7 linked regions of the Homo sapiens genome follow. The protein of the gene in region 2 interacts with the protein of the main gene of each other region in a pairwise test. Each region holds a gene or a part of one and is shown on either strand. Other genes may lie near its edges. The genes, in order: TBC1D25, FEZ1, ZNF251, COL9A2, BORA, PTH and DIS3L2.

Region 1 (3,500 bases), on a different chromosome or scaffold from region 2:
TGAGATGAAGTCTCGCTCTGTCACCCAGGCTGGAGTGCAGTGGCAAGATCTTGGCTCACTGCAACCTCTGCTTTTCGGGTTCAAGCGATTCTCATGCCTCAGCCTCCCGAGTAGCTGGGATTATAGGCATGTGCCACTACACCCGGCTAATTTTTGTATTTTTTTTAGTAGAGACAGGGTTTCACCATGTTGGCCAGGATGGTCTCGAACTCCTGACTTCAGGTGATCCGCCTGCCTCAGCCTCCCAAAGTGCTGGGACTACAGGCATGAGCCACCGTGCCCAGCGGATTTGGGCTCTTATAAAGAGGTTGAGGGTGTGGGTTCACTCTCTTCTGCTCTTCTGTCATGTGAGGATGCAGCAAGAAAGCCCTCACTAGACACACAACCTGCCAGCACCTTGATCTTGGACTTCCCAGTCTCCAAAACTGTGAGAAATAAATTTCTCTTCTTTACAAATTCCTCAGTCTGTGGTATTCTGTTATAGTAGCACAAAACGACTAAGACACACACCCAGGAAATTTAATACTGATACAATTATCTAATGTATGGTCTGTAATCAAATTTTGAGACCACGTCCTAATTTATCTGTGTGCTCGCAGGGACCAGAATAGGCAAGAGTGGAAGAACAAAGATGAGAAGAGAAAAAGTGGCTGAGAGGTCAAGGGAACAAATGAATGAGTGAGCAAGAATACAAACAAATGAATATGGGTGCAGAATGACTGAATGAATAAACACAACTAGCATTATTATAATACGCATTGTTATATTTAGGTATTATAACTGAAATACATAATGCTAAAGCTATACCGTTATACTATATTATAAATCTGCATTATATCTAATTATTACATACATTACTCGGTTATATGTTATAATAGTATAATACAATATAATTATCATTATTAGAGATAACACTTTCTGAGCCTTCATTATGCAGTCATGCACTGTTCCAGGCATTTTATATGAATTTCCCCTCACAATGGTTCTAAGATACAAGGCCTCACAATGGTTCTAAGATACAATTATCTCTTTACAAGTGAAGAAATTGTGGCCTAGTGGCTGAGCCAGGATCTATAGCTAGGATACCTTGCTACCCATCCCACCATGAGGGAGTGTACTGTGAGGGGTAGCATCACCCTATGGGGTAAAGGGGTTCCAGAGCAGTGCTCCTGGGGGCACTGAGTACTCACTGTCCTCCGAGGGCCGAATATCTACACGCAATTGCAGGTAAGGTTTGGAGGCAGTGGCAAAGGCTGTGCTGAGGTCCCAGTCAGATAGAAGTGAGAGGTAAACTTCCTGTCCTAGCCGGTCCCGGCCCAGGTAGCTGATGCCAAAGTTCTTCTTCCTGGACAGGGGATACGAGGGAGCTCTCAGGGCCCCTGGTGCCCTGGAGGCCTCAGGGACAGTTTCCAAAACAAGGAGGGTAATATAGAAGGCGTTGAAAACAACTTCCTACTATGTGCAAGGTACTGTGCCAAGGATTATGGGCAGCCTGAGATCAGGTCATTTATACCCACTTTGTTACACAAACACATACAAGCAGGTACACACCTGCTTGTATCTGGAGGTCACATTGGAAACTGGTAAAATGTTGGCCGGGTGCAGTGGCTCACGCCTATAATCTCCGCACTTTGGGAGGCCGAGGTGGGTGGATCACCTGAGGTCAGGAGTTTGAGACTAGCCTGGTCAACATGGTGAAACCCCTTCTGTACTAAAAATACAAAAAAAATTAGCTGGGTGTGGTGGCAGGTGCCTGTAATCCCAGCTACTCAGGAGGCTGAGGCAGGAGAATCGCTTGAACCTGGGAGGTGGAGGTTGCAGTGAGCCAAGATTGTGGCATTGCACTCCAACCTGGGTGACAGAGCAAGACTCCATCTCAAAAAAAAAAAAAAAAGTTGGTCCCCTCTGGGGTAGATGTGGGACAGAAGTGGGAAGAAAGCAGCCTTCTTACTACATAAAAAAAAAGCAATCTGTGTTTGTTATTTTTCACAACAAAAATGTTTATGTAAGAAAGTCTAATAACAACTAAGAATTTTTCAGCTATACTTGTGCAACTATGTAAAGAAGTTTGTTGCGTGATGCTCATCATAACCATGGAAACATCCTAAATACCCAACAATTGTGTACTGTTTGAATTTCTTACCATGTGTATGTATTCCTCCAAAATCACAACAAAATGACTATCACATCTGCCCCCAAGAGACACCACTTTTCAGCTATCAGATTGGCAAATTTTGCAGTTTTACAGTAACCAATGTTTGCGAGGGTGTGAGGGAAACAGGCATTTATGTGCTGCTGATGAGATCATAAATTCGTTTTTTTTTTTTTTTGAGACGGAGTCTCACTCTGTCGCCCAGTCTGGAGTGCAATGGTGCGATCTCGGCTCGCTGCAAGCTCCGCCTCCCGGGCCCATGCCATTCTCCTGCCTCAGCCTCCCAAGTAGCTGGGACTACAGGCGCCCACCACCACGCCTGGAGAATTTTTTGTATTTTTAGTAGAGACGGAGTTTCACCGTGTTAGCCAGGATGGTCTTGATCTCCTGACCTCGTGATCCACCTGCCTCAGCCTCCCAAAGTGCTGGGATTACAGGCATGAGCCACAGCGCCCGGCTGAGATCATAAATTGATAAAACCTGTCTGGAGAGCATTTTGGAAACACCCATTAATAGTTCAAAAAGCAGGCCAGGTGCGGTGGCTCATGCCTGTAATCCCAGCACTTTGGGAGGCTGAGGCGGGTGGATCACGAGGTCAGGAGATCGAGACGATCCTGGCCAACACGGTGAAACCCCATCTCTACTAAAAATACAAAAATTAGCCGGGCATGGTGGCGCACGCCTGTAGTACCAGCTACTCAGGAGGCCGAGGCAGGAGAATTGCTTGAACTCAGGAGGTGGAGGTTGCAATGAGACGAGATCACACCACTGCACTCCAGCCTGGACGACAGAATGAGACTGTCTCAAAAAAAAAATTTTTTTTAAAGCAAATACCCTTTTACCTGGCAATACCACTGCTAGGAATTTATCCTATGACTAGATGTTTCCAAATACAGTAGTCCCTCTTTATCTACAGGGGATACATTCCAAGACCCCCCCGAGTGGATGCCTGAAACTGCAGATAGTACCAAGCCCTATATATACTATGTTTTTTTTCATATACATACATACCTATGATAAGGTTTAATTGATAAATTAGGCACAGTAAGAGATTAACAATAATAGAACAATTATGACAATACAGATGCTTCTTGACTTATGACAGGGTTATGTACCAATAAACTCATCGTAAGTTGGAAATACTGTAAGTTGACAATGCATTTGGCTGGGCGCAGTGGCTCACCTGTAATCCCAGCACTTTGAGAGGCTGAGGCGGGCGGATTGCTTGAGCTCAGGAGTTTGAGACTGCCCTGGGCAACATGGCGAAACCCTGTCTCTACTAAAGATACAAAAAATTGGCCGGGTGCGGAGGCTCACGTGCCTGTAATCCTAACACTTTGGGAGGCCG
Region 2 (3,500 bases):
ACTCTTTGAGGTGGTTTCTTCACAGTGGGCTGGACCAAAGGTAAGGGGTTTCAGGGTCTCCTCCTTTAGAATAATTTCCATTCTTATTCCCAAACCTTTTCACCTCTACTCACAAACTTAGGAAATACCCAGTCTTTGACTACTGAAAGCCATTTTACAGAATGCAACCAAATGACACAAGTCCCTGTCAGGGTCTTATGGCTGAATGTCCTTTTCTCTAAGAGGAGTTATAATTGAGTTCATATCATTGAATTGTAGATCCTCCTACAAGTCACAAGAATAGCTATTAGCCCCTATTTTTAAAAATCTGGTTCTCTTCAGTCTCCTAATCCTCACGTGTTTCAATTCCCACCTTTCTATCACAGATATGAAAAAGCACCATTGCTGCTAAAAAAGCACTTTCTGGCACCGAAGGCTGCCAGTGGAGCTTTGCAGAAAGACTTTGTGGAAACTTATGTAGTGTTTAGCTCAAAATAAGCACCCATAAATATTTGTTGACTAAAACATTAAATAAGGAATCCAGAAACTGAACATTATCCTCTCTAAGTAATAAATTATTAAAGCTATGATGATCTCAATTGAATGCGAAGCACTCTATCTTTTTTCACAAAGTCGAAGTGGCTCTAAGACTCCTTTCGGAAGGCCCAAAATTTTGAGTGTTCTATGAAATGTAAGAAAATATCCATCACACAAAAGCCTCATCTGTCACTTCTCTTTTTGGGAAAACAGGTATTTGGGACCCTTGTTTGAGTGTCTTGACTCCGAGTACAACGAATTTCAATAAGAAGGCTTAGCAGGATTGTAGCTACTAAACACTATGCCTGTCTCTGGCTCCTATCAGAGACTGACCCCAACTATCCCAAGTGTCAAGAATGACATTCATGTTCACTGCAGGTGGGCAACCTGAGGCAGAAAGAGAGATGAAATCCCTTATCAAAAATACTCTGAGTTGGACAGTCACCGTGGCTCATGCCTGTAATCCCAGCACTTTGGGAGGCCAAGGCGGGTGGACTGCTTGAGTCCAGGAGTTTGAGACCAGCCTGGGCAGCATGGTGAAACCTCATCTCCACTAAAAGTACAGAAAATTAGCTGGGCATAGTGATGCATGCCTGTAGTCCCAGCTACTTAGGGGCCTGAGGCGGGAGGATCGCTTGAGCCAAGGAGGTTGAGGCTATAGTGAACCCTGATTTTGCCACTGCACTCTGGCCTGGGTGACAAAGTGAGACCCTGTCTCAAAATGAAAAAAAAAAAAGGTCAGGCACAGTGGCTCATGCCTATAATCCCAGCACTTTGGGAGGTTGAGGTGGGCAGATCACTTGAGGTTAGGAGTTTGAGACCAGCCTGGCCAACATGGTGAAATCACATCTCTACCAAAAAATTTTTTATAAGAATTAGCCAGGCATGGTGGTGCATGCCTGTAGTCCCAGCTACTCGGGAGGCTGAGGCAGGAAAGTCACTTGAATCCGGGAGGCAGAGGTTGCAATGAGCCAAGATCACGCCACTGCACTCCAGCCTGGGCAACAGAGCAAGACTCTGTCTCAAAAGTATATATATATAAAGAAAAAAAAGAAACAAAAAATACTCTGAGTCATGAGCACAGGCACCACATGACCACATATCTTTCTTCTGCCTTAAATGGATGTGGCAAGTGTGTTCTCTTGGACTTTTTCTCCATCAAAAGAACAAAAGGTCCCGATAACCTGGAGAGATACTTATACCTGATCTGCTGTGAGCAGAGGCTCCTCGTTGATACCGGAATCATTTTCACTCTTCTCATTGAACTCTTCCTCTTCTTTCTCATGGATCTGGAGAGGAGGTGGGGAGATGGAATTCTGGGTGACCATCAGCAGAAGTGGGATTGCCTCTAGTCTCGAGAATGGATGATACTGACTGGGAGGCCACTCCAGCCAGCTGCTGTCTAAACAGTGGAGCTGAAGAGGTGTCCAGAGTTTCATCCAATTCCAAACATATCTTTGCCCCATCACTAACTCCAGCATGCCAGAAATCCAGCATGCAGCACTGAATCCAACTTGGCAGGAAAAGACGACAGGGGAATGGCCAGCACCATTCTGACTCAAAGGGGACAGCACCGTTTTTTAACCCACAGACAGGTCATCCTGGGGTGAACAAGGCGCCTTCTCCAGGTAAGTGACACTGCAGCCAACTGCAGCAAAGGTGCCCTGATTTTGTTAAGGAGTTCCAACCTGGGGGGTTGTTTCCAGATTTCGTCTTACTAGGCATTTTAAGGAATAGGTTGTTCTAGTCCAAATAATGATGACTTTCAGAATTTGATGAAATGCCATCCTGTTACTGGAATCCAGGCATGATGTCATAGCTGATGGCAGATGTAAGAAATCTGCATGGGACATGCCACTGAATAACCTGACCACATGAACTAAACAACAACAAAACTACAAAAGAGAACCCCATTTATCTCATTTGCCCTGTGTCTCTATAATTCCATAATCCCAAGTAAGATCCTCAAAGTTCACAGCCATCAAAATTCTAGATGTTTAAATCTAACAAGCTATTCAAAGCATATCTGGCTTAACTGACCATATCCCAAACTGCCATAGTCTGGCATTTACATTCAAGTCCCACAGAAAAGTTAATCACTAAACACCTAACAAGCTGTATGTCTAGAAGTCTGATTTGAACGTCATACAAGGAGGAGGCAGGAGGTGTCTCTAGGAAATCTCTCTGCTGAGTCACCTCTCATCCAGGAATGAATCCTCCTTGCGCTCCAGTAGCTGGCACACCGATTGGCCCCTTCCCTGGGGCTTGTATTCTGCCTTTTCTAACAGGAAACAGCCCAGCTCCAATCCAAGCAATAATGTCAGAGGTAGTCTATCCTCAGAAACTTCTCCCGTCTTCTGTGAGCTTTGCCTTGGCAGACATCCCTAACAGAGCACATCACCTTTTATCTCCATTTGCTTAAAACCAGGACTATGTCATTAAAAAAGAAAAAAAAAATTAAGCAAATATATCTCAAATGCCATCCGCACTCAACCTAGATATGGGGTAGGACAGGGAGGTAATGGAATCATCTGAAGGGCCCGGGTACCAGATGGTGACATCTATTTCCGCTGTCAAACCCATATGCTCCTCTCTCTGCCAAGTCCACCACCTGCGATAGCCTCGTGGTTTCCACCGCTCCCCACTATGCAGAACAAAACTCCTGGAGCTACGCTTTGTTCACAACTACACTCATATGGAAGAACTTTCTTCAGGCCAGAAAATCCTGCAGTAGAAGTTAGCCCAAAATTAAGAGAACGAAGATACATTTTTTCCTCCAGACAAAAATTAGGGGAGAAAAAGGAAGAAATGTATCAATATGAACCCAGCCCAAGTTAGTGTGAGCCCAAGTTAGGCTCATCCTGGGAAACAGGGTTATTTTTCATAAGCATCTAACAGCAACTGTTAGTCTATAACCAGGATTTGGCAGGGGGTAGGGGGTGGTGGGCACTAAGTCTATATAAAAATGGCATGTTTACCTTTTC
Region 3 (3,500 bases), on a different chromosome or scaffold from region 2:
CAGAATAACCTGCTGAGTTTTTTTCGTTTTTTAGAGACAGGGTCTTGCTCTGTCAGCCAGGCTGGAATACAGTGGCATGATCATAACTTACTGAAACCTCAGACTCCTAGGCTCAAGCAGTCCTCCCACCTCAGCCTCCCAAATAGCTGGGAATATAGGCACATGCCACCAGGCCTAGCTAACAAAAAAAATTTTTTTGTAGATATGGGGTCTCACTATGTTGCCTAGGCTGGTCTTAAACTCCTGGGCTTAAGCGATCCTCCTGCCTTAGCCTCCCAAAGTGCTGGATTATAGGCATAAACCACCACACTTAGCCCCTGAGACTGTGATTGAGATTGTGTTGAATCTGTAAATCAAGCAGAGGACTGACATCATGATAATACTGAGTTTTCCTCATGAACAGACTATCTCTTCATTTATTTAGCTCTTCTTTGATATATTTTTATCAGTCTTGTATTTTTCCTCACAGATTTTGTACATATTTTGTTAGACTTACACCTCAGTATTTTATCTTTAGTGGTGCTAATGTAAATAATGTGTTTTTAACTTCAAATTCCACTTCTTCGTTGCCAGTATAAAGGAAAATGTAGATTTTCTGTAGATGCTCTCTATCAACTTGAGGAAGTTCCTCTCTATTCCTAGTTTGTTGAATTTGTAATCATGAATCGAGGTTGGATTTTGTCAAATGCTTTCTCCGCATCTACTGATATGACCACATGATCTTTCTTCAGCCTGTTGATGTGGTACATCACATTACATTAATTTATTTCCTAATGTTGGACCAGCCTTGTAAACCTGGGACAAATCCCACTTGGTCATGGTATATAATTCTTTTTATACATTGTTGGATTTGATTTGCTAATATTTTGTTGGGATTTTTGCATTTATGTTCATAAGAGGTGTCTGTCTGTAGTTTCCTTTTCTTGTAATGTCTGTTTGGTTTTGGCATTTGGGTGGATAACACTGACCTCATATGAGTTAGGAAGTATTCCCTCTGTTTTTATTTTCTGGAAGAGATTATAGAGAACTGGTATAATTTCTTCCTTAAATGTTTGGTAGAAGTCATAAGTGAACCCATCTGAGCCCAGTGGATTCTATTTTGGAAGGTAATTGTTGATTTGACTTATTTAACAGACATAGCCCTATTCAGATTGTCTATTTCTTCCCGTGTTTGGGAGATTGTGTACTTCAAGGAATTGGTTCATTTATCAAATTTGGGCACAGAGTTGTTCATCTTTTTTTTTTTATTACCCTTTAAAAGTCTGTGGGACATCTCTGTAGTGATGTTCCCTCTTTCATTTGATATTAGTATTTTGTGTCCTCTCTCTTCTTTGTCTTAGTCTGGCTAAAGGTTTACTGATTTTATTGTTTTTTCAAACCATCTTCTGGTTTCGTTGATTTTCTCTATTGATTTCCTGTTTTCCATTTCATTGATTTCTGCTTGAATTTTTATTTCTTTTCTTCTGCTTACTTTGTATTTAATTTGCTCTTCTTTTTCTAGTTTCCTAGAGTGAAAGCTTACATTATGATTTTAGATCTTTCCCATTTTCTAATACATGCAGTCAATGCTATAAATTTCCCTCTAAGCACTGCATTCACAGCATTCCACAAATTTTGGTAAGTTTTATTTTCATTTTCACTTAATTCAAAATATTCTAAAATTTATCTTGAGATATCTTCTTTGACTCGTGTTATTTGGAAGTGTGTTATTTGCCAAGTACTTTAGGATTTTCTAGCTATCTTTCTGGTTTCATTTCTAGTTTCATGTCATTGTGGTCTGAGAATAGACATTCTATGTTTTCTATTCTTCAAGTATGTTAAAGTGTTTTGTGGCCCAGAATGTGGTCTATCTTAGTGAATGTTCCACATGAGCTTGGCAGGAATGTGCATTCTGCTATCGTTGGATGAAGCAGTCTACAGATGTAAATTATTCCCAGCTGACTGATGTGATGGTGCTGTTAAACTCAACTGCATCCTGCTGGATCTGTCCATTTACGATAGAGGGTGCTGGATCTCCAACTGCAGACAGTGAACTCATCTATTTCCCCTTGTAGTTCTATCAGTTTTCGCATCACATATTTTGTTGTTGTTGTTTTTTGAGACGGAGTCTCGCTCTGTTGCCCAGGCTGGAGTGCGATGGCGCGAATCTCGGCTGACTGCAACCTCTGCCTCCTGGGTTCAAGCAATTCTCCTGCCTCAGCCTCCCGAGTAGCTGAGATTACAGGCATGAGCCACCACGCCCGGCTAATTTTGTATTTTTAGTAGAGATGGGGTTTCTCCATGTTGGTCAGGCTGGTCTCGAACTCCTGACCTCAGGTGATCCACCCGCCTCGGCCTCCCAAAGTGCTGGGATTACAGGCGTGAGCCACCGTGTCCAGCTGGTTTTGTGGTTTTTAGAGATAGTGTCTCACTCAGTTGCCCAGCCTGGAGCGCAGTGACGTGATCATAGCTCACCGCAGCTTCAATGTCCTGGGCTCAAGCGATCTGCCCTTCCTGGCCTTCCAGAGTGCTGGGATTACAGGCATGACTACCACACTTGACAACCTCACTTTTTTTTTTTGAGATGGAGTCTCACTCTGTCGCCCAGGCTGCAGTGCAATGGTGCAATCTTGGCTCACTGCAACCTCCATCTCCCAGGTTCAAGTGATTCTCCTGTCTTAGTCTCTTGAGTAGGGGGGATTACAGGTGCACTCCACCATGCCTGGCTAATTTTTGTGTTTTTAGTAGAGATGGGGTTTCATCATGTTGGCCAGGCTAGTCTTGAACTCCTGACCTCAAGTTATCTGCCCGCCTCGGCCTCCCAGTGCTGGGATTACAGGTGTTAGCCACTGTGCCTGGCCAACCTCACATATTTTGATGCTGTTGTTAGGCCCATACACCTCAAGATCTGTTATGTTTTGTGTCTAAAGTAGTAAGATATTTCCGCTTTCTTTGGATTACTATCTTTCTCCATCCCTTTTGTGTTTTTATGTTTAAAGTGGGCTTCTTTTCTTTTTTTTTGTTCATGGCAAGATCTTGTCATGAGACAGCAGGTTTCTTTTTTCTTTGCAATGGGGTCTTGCTCTGTTGCCCAGGCTGCAGAGCAGTGGTGCAATCACAGCTCACTACAACCTCAACTTCCTGGGCTCAAGCGATCCTACCACATCAGCCTCTTGAGTAGCTGAGACTTATAGGTACACAACACCACACCAAGCTAATTTTTTTAACTTTTTGATGAGATGATTTCTCACTATGTTGTTTAGGCTGGTCTCAAACTCCCAGGCTCAAGGGATCCTCCCACCTCGGCCTCCCAAAGTGCTGGAATTACAGGAGCCATCACTCCTGGCCGAAGCAGGTTCCTTATAGAAAACACAGTTGGGGCCAGGCACTGTGGCCTGTAATACCAGTGCTTTAGGAGGCCAAAGCAGGAGGACTGCTTGAGGCTCAAGAGTTTGAGACCAACCTGGGCAAAATAGTGAGACCTGATCTCTACAAAAATAAAAAAAGAGCTGGATGTGGTG
Region 4 (3,500 bases), on a different chromosome or scaffold from region 2:
TGTCAGACAGGCAGGCAGATGGAAAGACACATATACAGACAAGCAAAGATACCACCTCTTTTCCCCAGCACAAGCAGACGGGAGGGACTACTACGAACCCTACAGTCCTGTGTTACAGATAGAGAAAAGCCAAGCAAGGAGACATGACCAGAGACATGCCGACCTGGAGCACAGGCCTCCAGCCCCCGGCTCAAGGCTCTGTCCCCAGAACCCACAGGGGAAGGGGAAGGGACGAAGAAGGGGACAGAGCCCTGTAGGACCATCTCCACGTATCCCTGACCCACAGCCCTCAGCCCTTGCACTCACCGGCTTCCCCTGGTGGCCAGGATCACCCAGAATCCCGCGTTTGCCCGCATGCCCCTGAAGGGAAGGAGAGAGCTCAATACGAGGTCCCCTCCTGTCACCTGCACCACCCTCCCAAGATTCAGGCCAGGAGCTCTCACCTTCACTCCCTGCAGCCCTGGGGGACCTTTCATTCCGGGTGGACAGTTGGTTGGACACTGGAAACAGAAAATCCCACAGGGTCCTGTGATCAGCTGGGCAGTGCGCCCCCATCTCTCCAAGCCCCGTGCTCTCCTCCGCCTCACCTGGTGGAACCCCTGCACTGCAGCCCCTCCCCATCTCTCCAGACACCCCCATCTCCGTGGCCCCGCCTCCCCATCTCTGTGGCCCCGCCCCCCTGTGTTAGCCCCGCCCCAGACCTCGTCTCTCACCAGGAAATCCGCACTGCCTTCCAGACCCTGGATGGTTCCCGGGCGACCCTGAGAGGAGACATGAAGATGGAGCTTGGCCTGACCCTTTCCCGCCGCAGGCTTGCTCAAAGACCCTTCTCCTTCCCCTGCACTTTGCCATGTCGGGGGTCTGGGGACACTTACAGGTTTCCCAGGGGGTCCTGGGGGCCCCGATGGTCCATCTGGTCCAGGGTCCCCCTGGAAGCAAAAGAAGCCCAAATCATACCCCTGACCAGCCCTTACCAGCTTACCCTAGTGCCCTCCTCCAGGTCCTGCCTCTGCCCTCTCCACCCTGTCTTCCCGGTCACTTTGTGAGATCCACCATCTTGGGAGATGAAGGCCTGATTGACAGGGGATGGGGCCAGCGGCGTCCCTAAAAGACCTAGTGCCGGGTGGGCTCATAGGAGGGGTTTCTGCCCCAGACCTGGAGGAGTTTCCCAGTGGCCAGGAGCAGGCCCAGGAACTTCCAGAAAGACCACCCAGCTTGCCAGCTTGGAGATAGAAGGCAGGAGGCAGTGAACAGAGGGTGGCTGAGGCTCACCTTGGGGCCTCGGATTCCAATCTCACCAGGGAGGCCAACAGGTCCAGGAGGCCCCTGGGGAGCAGAGAGTTGATGGTCAGGATGCCTCAGAGGGTCAGATACCCTGGGCACAAAGGTAGAGACAGGCACCCAAAGCCCGTTTCTCCACTTTTACTTTTTTTTTTTTTTTGCCAACCCCAGAGAGACTGACAGACTGAGGCTTTAAGGACCAGAGAATTGCAGAGCCAGTGGACAGGCCCAGAGTGGGCTGGCCCTGGGTCTCTGGCAGGTCCACTTATTCCTGACACTATCACAGCAAGCTGGCTCCTTCCCATGGTGGCCATTCCCTCGAAGCCTTTCTGTTGTCCCCTCCTTCCCTGGGAGTTCTGGGGATCCTGCCCCATCCCTGAGGACTTACAGGAGGTCCAGCAAAACCAGGGCCCTGGAACAGAAAGAAAGAAAATTGGCTTCATGGCTCCCTCTGCAGGTCCCCTCTCCCCCAAGAGTCCCTCGAAGCCCTTGCAGGTTGTACTCACCGGAAGGCCAGGAGGACCAGGAAGCCCGGGCTGGCCCTGCAGAAGCAACGAGAAAGGCTCAGAGGCTGGGGTTTCCCCGGCTCCTACTTCCTCTCTACAGCCACTCCCAAACGCTGGCCCTAGATTGCCCACGCTGAGGCCCCAGCAGGCCCCTTACCTTGACTCCAGGGATCCCCATGGGGCCAGGCTCCCCCTTGGCTCCAGTTAAACCCTGGGGAAGAATGAAAATGTAGGATCAATGAGGGCCAACCTGCTCCCTGACCCACAGAGCAGGGCAGGTTCAAGGGTCCCTCCTGGGTGGGCCGAGGCTCCTTTTTGCCACACCTCATGAAGGCCTAGGAACCTCCACACCTTTCTTTCCTTTTCCCCAGTTCCCATAGTAACCCTAGGAGGCAGGCAGAACAATTCCCTTCTTTTGAAAGATGAGAAACCAAAGCCCAAAGATTTGGCTTTATGCCAGACCCAGGCTTCATGCCTCCGGGTTCAGGAGTCTAGAAGACCTAGCCATGGGTCAAGATTGGTCATTTGCTTGATGTCCTACCTTGACAACTTTTTCATTTTCTTTTCTTTTCTTTCCTTTCTCTTTTCTTTTTCTTTCTTTTTTTTTTCAATTGAGACACAGTCTCACTCTGTTGCTCAGGCTGGAGTGCAGTGGCACAGTCTCAGCTCACTGCAACCCCCGCTTCCTGGGTTCAAATGATTCTTGTGCCCCAGCCTCCCAAGTAGCTAGGACCAGGGGCATGCGCCACCACGCTTGGGTAATTTTTGTATTTTTAGTAGAGATGGGGTTTCGCCATGTTGGCCAGGCTGGTCTTGAGCTCCTGACCTCAAGTAATCTGCCCACCTCGGCCTCCCAAAGTGCTGGGATTACAGGCATAAGCCACCACGCCAGGCCATTGGCAACTTTTTCTGAGCCTTAGTTTCTCATCTGGGTGCCTCTCTGGGTGGATGTGAGAACTGATGCAACATAGAAGGCAATATGCCTTGTAATCGTTGCAGGGTGTGGATGAGTTTGAAGGGGTCCTGGTGACTGTCCCAGCCCTGGTCACACCTCATGAGCCAGCAGGGCAGAGGCAAGTCATGGGGGTTTCTCCTTTCTCCCATCTTTCAGTGACTGACCCAGTGTAACCCCCATCAGATGTTGTCCTCATGCCCCTGGGGCTGGCTGTGTTCAAGAGCCTGTGACCTTGGGGGCCCCCTGGGAGCTCTGTGGTATCAGCTAAATGATGTTTCTCTCCTGAGTCATGCCTGGGGCTGTGGGTAGGGGTCAGGGGAAGAGCGGAGGAAAGGACAGGGCACACAAGGACAGCCCCACCCAACATATTCAGCCTGATCCTTGGAGGCCAGAAATGTGAGACTAAGTCCTGACTGCTGAGGGGTAGCAGGAGGAACCTGCACCTCCCAGAAAGCAGACCCTCTCTCTGGACCCCGGTTGCCTGCAAATCAATGACCCTGGGTGAGAGTGAGGTTCCAGGAAGGTCACAAGTCATATCAAGGTGAGGGGGGCTCACAGCTGGAGAATCTCCATCCTGCTGCCCATCTCTGAACAGATCAGTGAAGATGCCAGAGCCAGGCCCTGGAGGTCAATTGGCAGAGCCCTACCCTGCCCCACCCGACACTCAGCTACTCACATCAATCCCGGGCTTCCCGTCTGGCCCATCTGGCCCAGCTTTGCCAGGCTCGCCCTTGGGTCCCTTGAAAACAGAGATGGAA
Region 5 (2,387 bases), on a different chromosome or scaffold from region 2:
AAAAGAAACGGCATACAAGGCTGGGCATGTTGGCTCATGCCTGTAATCGCGCAGCACTTTGCGAGGCTGAGGCAGAAAGACTGCTTGACACCAGGAGTTTGAGACCAGCCTGGGCAACACAGCAGGCCCTGTCTCTACAAAAAAATAAAATGCAAAAAAAATTGGCACATAAAATTAAAGACTGTCCTGACTAGTGCCTGAAATTATGATGAGTTTCTTCAAGTATGAATATATAACCACCACCTGGAAGGTTCAGTAAATGCCCTCATCAAATACACGCTACCTTTGCACACTTTGTAGTATGTAAGATACTTGTGTATTCAGAGTAACCAAAATATTTAAAGGTTATTGGATGTTAAGAAAACAGGCTTACCTTTTAGTGTTTTAAATTTCATATAGTTTCTCAATAGTACTATTGTCTAATAATCAAAATTATTTTATATTTCTAATCTAAACAATATTAAGCTTTCACTATATTTTCTCCGTACCTTCATATTAAATGCTTGAGATTTACTCTCAACTTCACATGTTTGTGCATCACTTTCTTTGCAGTAACTTTCTGCCCCAACTGTATCCATAATATTGCTTCCACAATTCTGCGTATTATAGCCACTATCCATCTGACAGGAGAAAAAAGAAAAAAATATATTGTGAGGAACTTAAAAGTCAAATATTTAAATAAGTAAACCACTATAAACTCTCATTCACTACATCTGAATGATCCTAACATGTAATATTGATCATGTTGAACAAAATTCAAAAGTAATGCACAAATATAAAAGGTAGTCCTGCATAGTACTGATTATTGTAGTCATTTTACAATTCCTTCCAATGAAATATATCTTGTAACTTCCTTAAGAATCAGTGAACAGCCTACTGACACAATGCTTTCCTGTTATTTTGTGATCGTACCTAGTAGACAAAAATGAGTATTACAACTAACTTCACCTTCCAACGCATTTTCCAGGCTTGTCTCTAAATGGCTTGAGGCATGCTGCCTTTAAAAAAGTGGATTATATTATATTTACACCTAGTTGTTCACAATAATGCCACATATATAATGGCTCTAGATGTTAGTTCAGCTTTTCATGTTAATAAAAATTGTAGCATCCTAAGATACACTGTTTCAGTGCAAAAGAGCAAAAAAGAAAGATTCTAGCGAACTTCCAGCTTGGAAACATTTATTGAGTGTCTAAAAAGGCCAGGCACTATCTCTATATATTTAATATTTTTTTCTCCTTTCAACAACCCTAATACTTTACTAGAGAAGGAAATTAAGGCTTAAAAAGCTTAACTTTCACAATGTCATCCAGTGATGAGGTGATGAAGATGTGAGACCTAAGTCCAGGTTCTGTTCACTGCACAACGCTCCATTTACCTGTATAATGCTGAGCACCAAAGAAAGCAATCCACAAGGGAATCATTTTGCATTTAAGCCCTCCCTGCAAGTTAGGATCAGAGGGAAGGAAAAAGCTGACTGTCATTTTGTTTCCCTCACAAAGGTACAGACTAGCCTAGAAACGGCACTCTTTATCACTTAATAATCCTGAAAAAATGTTCCCAGATTTCAAGGCTGGATACATATCTGCTTACTACTAGAGGTCATGTTCCAATTAGAACAAAAGCCTTGTGATGTGTAACATTTTTGGGGAAAAGCCTTGTTCTGCTATCATTCAATAGCTACTTGATCAAAAATATAAATGTCAGATTGCTCCCAGAGATTCTGCCAATAGCTCTTCCTTCTAATATTCATCACTGCCAAATAGCTGGCTTATAATGCAATACTAATATGTAACTGGATATATATGGAGGGAAGAGTTACTCATTAGTACAGCAGGAAGTAAGGCATGCGGGGAGTTTGTCCCACACTATGGGAAGAGCAGGATTGATGAGAGCCAAGTTGAGATGGTGGCTGACTTCACTGTCTCTCATCTAGACTTCTGCTAATGTCAATGCCTAATATGTACCAACCAGGCAACAGATACCTTGTTATCCCCCACAGGCATCAAGGCAGGCATCAATCTCACTTTATAGCTAAGAAGGATGAGGGGACAAAAATTAAAAAGTCATGTTCTATTCACTGCTATGTAAATCTTGCCTTAAGATCCCACAGCCTGGAAATAAAAGAACTCTAATTCAAACTTGGTTCTAATTGCAAACTTTATATTCCAGTTGGGTCATGGTGCCTTTAAATGGTGTCTCTATGTCAGTCATTTAACATGCACTTTGTTACTAAATTTATTTTTCTACCACATAAATCAGATGTCATTGTCTTTTAAAACTTTCAATTGGCAACAGTTGTGCCCTGTGATAACATTCCTTGACATCTGGGCCCAGCACTTTAGCCCTTCCCTCATCATTCTCAGTCCCCCTTGTTTGTTACCATT
Region 6 (4,151 bases), about 110 Mb from region 2:
CCTGGAGCAACACTCTAAGTGAGGTTAACCCAGAGTGGAGAATCTCCTAGGACAGGACTAGTATATATCTCTCATTATAAACTCCATACGGTTACTATTCAAATTTGTACTGGCTCTTACCTAAGGTAGAGTCAAACCTTGACAATGGCTAGTAGGAAAAAGGATGACATGAAGCCAGGATGGGACCAGAGCTGAGAGAACTGATCCCACTCTGGCACCGGATCTTTGGTGGGAAGGCAAAGCTGTCTAAAGGAGTCCTAGATATATCAAAGACATTCAGGGTGTTTTGACAGGTGGACCAGGAAAATATTGCTGGAGGAATATTTGAAGTCAGACATGTGGCAGCATCATGCCTCCAATAGGTTTTGGAGCAGGCTCTCATCATCCCTTAGGGAACATGAGAATAAAGACCTAACCCCTAGGGGAAAATGTTGCAAAGAGCTTTTGCTGTGTTTTCAGATGACTTTGCAAATTAAAGTCAAGAAGACTGGAGTTCAAAGAAGGGCTGTATTTCTAGGCAGAAACTGAGGTAGTAAGAATCTGGTGTCATAAAGACCTTTGTTGAATTCCATCTTTTCTGCTTTCCAAGCCTAAGTTTCCTCATGTAAAAATGGGGATAAGCACTTAACTTTAGTACTTTAAGTACTAACTTTAAAGGACTGCTGTGAAGATCTAGTGGGATAATATATGTAGTTAGGCATGCAGTTAGTGCTTATCAAATGTTATTATTATAGATTAAGATGCACAAATAAAATATAAGTTAAATAAATTTTAAAATAATTTCACTTTTGAAGCTTTTAAAGTAATTATGTACTAAGAGCATTTTCTCAAATTATTCTTAACACTTCCTTTAAGAAAAGGGCTATATCTGTTTTTTGAAAGATGACCAGAAGTGACATGGATTGGTTGAAAATGGCTTGTAAAGTAAGCCTAACATTTATGATTTATTACCATAAAAACTGTACCAACAGTACGGTTATAACAAATACACTTATTTTTGGGTTTTATTTTCAAGTAAGATAATGACTTTATCATAAACCTTTGAAATCAGTCTTTTTACAGTATAAATTCAGATTCATTAATCCACATAGAATTTTTCTCGATGGTATAATTCTGTATTTGTTAAAAGTCTTTGCATAAGCCCCTTGTCAAGCCAAATGCTGTTTTCCTTTTAGTATCCAATTATCTGAAACTTAAGAAGAGTGTGCACCGCCCAATGGGTGTGTGTATGTGCTGCTTTGAACCTATAGTTGAGATCCAGAGAATTGGGAGTGACATCATCTGTAACAATAAAAGAGCCTCTCTTGGTAAGCAGAAGACCTATATATAAAAGTCACCATTTAAGGGGTCTGCAGTCCAATTCATCAGTTGTCTTTAGTTTACTCAGCATCAGCTACTAACATACCTGAACGAAGATCTTGTTCTAAGACATTGTATGGTAAGTAAACTTAAAAATTCACTTCTGAATCTCATGAGATTTTGATAATCAAGTTATTATTTAATGTGTACCATTTCTACAAATACCATGTTGTTTCTTCAAGGTAAAATGCTAAGAAGTTTGAGTTATGTTTAATATAAAATGCCACATACAAAATAAATTAATGCTACTCAAATCACAAAATCCTTTTTGATTAAAGTCTTCTGAGATACCTTGCCTTTTAAAACCTCATCTGAAATTACAACAAAAAATCATTAAAATTTGGCATGCTATGCTTTAATATAATAGTATCGGTGTCAAAATTTTGAAATAAAACAGGTTGATGGTGAATGAATAGTTCTGATTTAAATAATCTTTATAAATTTATTAAGTGGAGTTAATATTCTGTTTTTCCTGCAGAGTATTCTTATCTAGATTATTTATTTTATGGCTCATAAAGAGCCCAATCTGTATACTAAAGTTGGATAAGCCCAGTTTGACTAGTAAATATTTATTTCCTTTACATAAATGACAGCTGTATTCTGAAAACAGTATTTCCTATGCTATTTCTAAATGATGCAGTTTCCCTGTAAAATAGGAGTACATAACTACTCTATGTGTATGTTAAAAGGTAGTACACTGAGCATTAAGGAAAAGCACTTCTATAATAACAGCCTTTGCAAGTACTGAAATGCAGATTAAGGCAAGAATATCCTATACTGATGTGAAACGAGGAAAGAGACAAAAGTTATATTAAAAGATAATTGTTAATAAAATAAGTTGAAGAAATAAGCTACAAACAAGCATTCCATTCAGAGATAAAGCTCGAAATCCATATCACAAGTAATTAATCAGATGATTTTTAAATGCTTTGACACATTATTTTTAATGCTAGGAGAAATGTGAATTAATTTAGTGAAAATCTCTAGATTAGCACCTATTAGTTTGGTATTTATGGTTATTACAATGCCTGAAATGAAGGTTACTTAAGAAAAGGATTTGCTACGTAAATAGTGTTAACAATTTACACTATGAAGAAAATTAGGCATTTTCAAGCAAGTTATAAACATTTAGGTATAATCAACATAAAATGCAGTGCGGGGGGATTTCTCAAAAATAGGCTCTTTCATTCCTCTTGTAGCTTAAGATTTCTGCAGTGTGACAGAAGGGAGCATGAGAAGCATGGCTCACCAGCCAGCCTCTATTGTCTATGTAATTAGAAGCTTCAGAACTCACTAATACCACTGTACCTTTCACTGGCGCATTACCCCATAAAACTTGAGATGAGGTGAGATCTGAGTATAAAGATAGGTCAGAAGTATTTTAAAGGGCTTAATTTGCCAAAAAGAAAAGTAAAAAGCTAGAGACCCTTTTTGCAGAACATTTGGTGACCACACATTTGAGGGAAGATGTGGCATTAGATGAAGCAGAAGCAAACCCTGCTCTTAGGGGCTCATCTAGGTGAGTGCACAGCCTGTGACACTACAGGGAGAGGCTCAGTAAACTGAGATCCAGCATTCTGTATGACAGAGGCATTGCTTATCACAGAGGTTCTGAATTTTAAGTAGGAAGTACATAATGAAGAGGGCTTTAAAAATTGCTAAGAAAGCGAGTCACCAGGGCTGGCAGTAGTGTAACAGGGCCATCCTGAGCTGTTAGGAGAGTAGATGCAGGGAGGGCTGGTGACCTCCGTGGGTTTATCTGTTGGAGACTCTTCTCTCCAAATCCCAGGCCTGGCTTCCAGCACCATCCAGCTGTGCCCAAGAAGCCACGCTGGTCTGTTCTCCAAGTCTTTTAAATGGTGCCTAATTTTTCTAAGTGAGCTTAGCAATGAGAAGAAAAAAAAAACATGAATTATTTTTCTGGAAAATCAAGGAGACATGGGTAACAACAGGCACTAATAAATATTTATAGATGAGTGAATGAGGAAATAATTACATAAAAAAGGTCAGTGACAATTGATAAATGACAAGGAAATATTTAATTAGGTAAAAGTAAACCATTGCTCTCTATACTAGGATAGACTTTATCTACTTCGTCTTTTCCTAAGTCAGCATGTTAATTCTGGGGGAGGATCATAAGAAAGGAAATACTTTTTTAAAAAAAATTTAAAAACATGTAACAAAGCAAGGGTAAAATATATGTATATACATAAGTGGTATGACTGTAAAACTGTACTTTCCATTAGTTATTAGCTGAGTTAAGAGAATGATCACGTTGAAGTACTGTGTGGACTAGAAATGTACTCTGTCATCATGCAATGAAATGTTGCTAACATTTTAACATAGCTCATTTATGCAGAATGAATTCTGGCAGTTTACCCCAAGTCACAGTTAGGACGGTAGATGGTGAGATCGCAGATGCGTGATTATCTAGATTCAGTGTTACATTTTTGATGTTTATCACTCAGTGGATTTTTATTAATATGCTGATTAAGTTATTTACTTGGCCAGTCATTGTGCTAAATAGTTGCTCTTTTGTGTTTCATTGCCTTGATGTTTGAGTGTAATCTAGCATTTTAATACAGTGTTTATTTTGCATGATCTTTAACAAATGTTTTAAGCAATTTTAAAAAGGCAGGATGTTATTGACATTATACATTGAAGTCTTAACATTTTAATATTTATAGTGCTTATTAGTTTGCAAAATTGTATAATTAGGAATTATTTCAGAGACAATGTTTTCTTTTTCAGGTGAGTAGTTGCCGCTTAATATCATTGGAGTACATTCTTTA
Region 7 (3,500 bases), on a different chromosome or scaffold from region 2:
GGCAGGAGAATGGTATGAACCTGGGAGGCGAAGCTTGCAGTGAGCCAAGATCATGCCACTGCACTCCAGCCTGGGTGACAGAGCAAGACTCTGTCTCAAAAAAAAAAAAAAAAAATCAGTTATCTGGGATAGGGATCAGGGAGCCAGGGGTATGAAAACAGCTTTGGGCATAATAGATATGATCAATGTCCTGTTTGTGATGATAGTCTTACAAGTACACACATATGTCAAAACTTAACAAACTGTACACTTTAGAGTTTATAACCTGTCAACTATACCTCAATAAATCAGTCTTAAATCAATCAAATAAATTTTTTAAATAAATCAAAAAAATATGGTCTTAACCAATAATAATCCTACACAACACAAATTGGGCCCTAATTCATTTATTAAAAATTGTTTTTTGTTAATAAGACATATTTCAGTCATAAAACTTATAAGGCATCCTTACTTGCAAACTATTATAAAAGACTGATTTGAACTGGCAAAAATTCAGTGAAACATAAAGAAAATAAATGCATTATTTCAACAAAAAAATCTCAGAACAATTCTTTTTTTCATTTACAAAACTTAACTAAAATTAAAAAGAAACATGTAAATTTCTGACCTTGTTTAATACTGTGCCATAAGTAAAAGGATTAAACAAAAATAATAATAGCTCCTTCTTGGTATAACTGTTGCTAGAGTTTTGCATTCAACCTTTTAAAAGTGATTAAAGCTAACAGTGGCAGACATCAGAGAAAAAGGCAACTATTTCCCATGTGGAAAGCTGGTCCCTAAAAAAATGAAGTTAAACAGAAATGTTTGGGGCTTCTCTCTGAATCCCTCAGCATCTAGATAATCACCACAAACTTCTCCTCACCAAAGCCTAATGGGAAATAGAAACAATCCAATTTCATTAGAGGAGGACCAAAAAGGAACTTATAATGCAGAATTCTTCAATTAGCATTATATAACTTCCTGCCTCATCCGGTTTGGGTCACACAACCTCTCCGTGTCTACCAGACACTCCACCAATACTTTACTGAGGGCAGGGTACTTCATCAGCCCTTCTCCCCTCATGATTTCATCAGAGATAATTTCAAGGTACTTTGCACCACATGAAGTCCCTTCCTACCAGTGTGACCAGTGTCTCATCTGTCATCATTAGTACATCCCAGAGGCAGCCTGTTATTAGGGCAAGAAAGAAATCAAAAGTAGGTGGACTAACAGTTGACTAAACTTCATCAAGTCTTGCCTCAACATAACTGGTCACGTAATAACTACTCTAAGGCATCAAGTTCTTGCTATGGTTCCAAATAAAATACCTTCTATACGAAAAACCCTTCAAATCCTTCTACTTCATGTTACATGACAAAAAGGAGCATCTTCTGCCATTCTACCACCACTCTCAGTTTAATAAAGACAACAAGATTTCTGGGATGGGCACAGTGATTCATGCCTGTAACTCCAATATTTGAGAGGCTGAGGCAGGAGGATCACTTGAGGCCAAGAGTTTCAGACAAGCCTGAGCAACATAGCAAGACCCTGTCTCCACAAAAAAAAAAAAAAAAAAAAAAAAAAAAAAAAAATGTTTTTTAACTAGCTGGGCATGGTGGCTCATGCCTGTAGACCCAGCTACTCAAGAGGCTCAGGTGGGAAGATCACTCGAGCCTGGGAGTTCAAGGTTACAGTGAGCTATGATCACACTACTGCACTCCAGCCTGGGCAGCAGAGTGAGATTCTGTCTCAAAAAGGCCAGGCACAGTGGCTCAGTGGCTCACGTCTGTAATCCCAGCACTTTGGGAGGGCAAGGCGGGTGGATTGCTTGAGGTCAGGAGTTTGAGACCAGCCTGGCCAACATGGTGAAACCCCGTCTCTACTTAAAATACAAAAAATTAGCCAGGCGTGGTGGCGTGAGCTTGTAGTCCCAGCTACTCACGAGGCTGAGGCTGGAGAATCACTTCAGCCCACAAGGCGGAGGTTGCAGTAAGCTGAGATCGTGCCACTGCACTCCAGCCTGGGCAACAGAGTAAGTCTCTGTCTCAAAAAAAAAAAAAAAGAAGAAGAAGAAGAATTCTGGTCAAGTCTCCACTCCCTGACATCAGCAAAAATGGTATCGATGGCCAGACCTCAGAGGGATCTATCCACTCATTCCAGGCCCAGTTTTACTTTTACTCATGCTCAATAGCATTTCATGAAACTCCTTCTGTAAAACAAAAACTTTTTGAAGGATAAAATAAAAGGACAGGCTGGGCATGGTGGCTTACATCTATAATCCCAGAACTTCGGGAGGTTGAAGCAGGAGGATCGCCTGAGCCCAGAAGGTCGAGGCCACAGTAAGCCGTGATCTCACCACTGCACTCCAGCCAGGGCAACATGGACGTGGCATCAGAGGGTCTGCTTTGATTAGAGCACTGTTCTCTTCCTGTGCATCTTGTAGACATCAGTTAAAATGTCATTTCAGTGATTTCTCTAAAACACTTGTCACAGCCATAGTTTTGCATTTGTGTGATTATTTGAGTATCATCTGCTGAGGACAGAGATCATATGTGCATTCACTCTCCCCCATCTCCAAGGCCAAGCATAGTGCCTGGTACCAAGTAAGCACTCAAATATTATATTTGATGATTAAGTGAATAAATGAACACTAAGTCTATAAGAAAGCAACAAAACATCTTTTAAGAGGACTTAAAAGTTTGATCATCTTCACAAATGTATCTTTGGTGGATGCCCAAAGCAACTGAGTCCCCTTATTAAACATTAAACTCAAAAAAAAAAAAAAAGTCAATTCAGATGTCTACATAAATTGCTCTGGCCTTCAATGTCTCAAGGCAAATGCTGAGCATCAAAGGCTGATAGGCTAAACACACACACTCTCCTTATGTAAAGCATACCTACTGGTTGCTAAGTAACAGTTGTTTTTGGTAATTCCTGATACTACCGCTGCTACATAGGAAGCACTTCAGAAATACCAGTCAAATAAAAAAGAGCAACATTTCACAAGACTCTTGAGCATGAATGAAACAGTAACTACTTAAACTGTGGTGTTTCATATAAACCTAACACCAAATGCAGAAGCAAAGAAACTCTAAGTGGCAAAGCCCTCAGCTAGTAACTTCACTATTTTAGATGTCAAACAGGAAAAATGTCATATAGATTTGTACTAAGACTATTTGAAAGAAATAGGTCACAAATCAAGTGACCTGAAAGCATTAAATAAGAACTTCGAAATGCCACATGGAACTATTTCCCAAACTCTTAAGAATATAAGGAAAGGAATTAGGACTTCCTGTCCTCTCCAATACAAATACAAATTATATCTGTACTTTAGAGACAAATCAAGTCCCATTTAATCCAGAAATGATTTCTCCACCCTCTGACCTACTACAGCACTTAATATCCGTACCACATATTTTGCATTTAAACAAATGTCCATTTCATTGCTTTCCTAATAATTTCATGTGTGCACTTTTCTTTTATATCCTTTAAAGTGTATAATGCTGTAGATGCTTAATAAA

What was found.
Region 1: the proteins of FEZ1 (region 2) and TBC1D25 interact in a two-hybrid assay, tested with the Homo sapiens proteins (one study listed by BioGRID).
Region 3: the proteins of FEZ1 (region 2) and ZNF251 interact in a two-hybrid assay, tested with the Homo sapiens proteins (one study listed by BioGRID).
Region 4: the proteins of FEZ1 (region 2) and COL9A2 interact in a two-hybrid assay, tested with the Homo sapiens proteins (one large-scale study listed by BioGRID and IntAct).
Region 5: the proteins of FEZ1 (region 2) and BORA interact in a two-hybrid assay, tested with the Homo sapiens proteins (one large-scale study listed by BioGRID and IntAct).
Region 6: the proteins of FEZ1 (region 2) and PTH interact in a two-hybrid assay, tested with the Homo sapiens proteins (one large-scale study listed by BioGRID and IntAct).
Region 7: the proteins of FEZ1 (region 2) and DIS3L2 interact in a two-hybrid assay, tested with the Homo sapiens proteins (one large-scale study listed by BioGRID and IntAct).

Annotation. Positions count from the first base shown.
Region 1 is NC_000023.11:48,542,714-48,546,213, reverse strand, and holds part of TBC1D25 (TBC1 domain family member 25), read right to left. Parts: intron 1,346-3,500; coding exon 1,191-1,345; intron 1-1,190. UniProt on the Homo sapiens protein: Acts as a GTPase-activating protein specific for RAB33B. Involved in the regulation of autophagosome maturation, the process in which autophagosomes fuse with endosomes and lysosomes.
Region 2 is NC_000011.10:125,461,766-125,465,265, forward strand, and holds part of FEZ1 (fasciculation and elongation protein zeta-1), read right to left. Parts: intron 1,806-3,500; coding exon 1,719-1,805; intron 1-1,718. UniProt on the Homo sapiens protein: May be involved in axonal outgrowth as component of the network of molecules that regulate cellular morphology and axon guidance machinery.
Region 3 is NC_000008.11:144,745,532-144,749,031, forward strand, and holds part of ZNF251 (zinc finger protein 251), read right to left. Parts: intron 1-3,500. UniProt on the Homo sapiens protein: May be involved in transcriptional regulation.
Region 4 is NC_000001.11:40,310,787-40,314,286, forward strand, and holds part of COL9A2 (collagen alpha-2(IX) chain precursor), read right to left. Parts: intron 3,482-3,500; coding exon 3,419-3,481; intron 1,999-3,418; coding exon 1,945-1,998; intron 1,824-1,944; coding exon 1,788-1,823; intron 1,694-1,787; coding exon 1,670-1,693; intron 1,327-1,669; coding exon 1,273-1,326; intron 930-1,272; coding exon 876-929; intron 762-875; coding exon 714-761; coding exon of another isoform or gene 702-713; intron 501-701; coding exon 444-500; intron 361-443; coding exon 307-360; intron 1-306. UniProt on the Homo sapiens protein: Structural component of hyaline cartilage and vitreous of the eye.
Region 5 is NC_000013.11:72,751,923-72,754,309, reverse strand, and holds part of BORA (protein aurora borealis), read right to left. Parts: intron 2,142-2,387; exon of another isoform or gene 621-2,141; coding exon 489-620; exon of another isoform or gene 1-488. UniProt on the Homo sapiens protein: Required for the activation of AURKA at the onset of mitosis.
Region 6 is NC_000011.10:13,493,198-13,497,348, reverse strand, and holds the start of PTH (parathyroid hormone isoform 1 preproprotein), read left to right. Parts: upstream 1-1,351; 5' UTR 1,352-1,438; intron 1,439-4,151. UniProt on the Homo sapiens protein: Parathyroid hormone elevates calcium level by dissolving the salts in bone and preventing their renal excretion. Acts by binding to its receptor, PTH1R, activating G protein-coupled receptor signaling.
Region 7 is NC_000002.12:231,964,713-231,968,212, reverse strand, and holds part of DIS3L2 (DIS3-like exonuclease 2), read right to left. Parts: intron 1-3,500.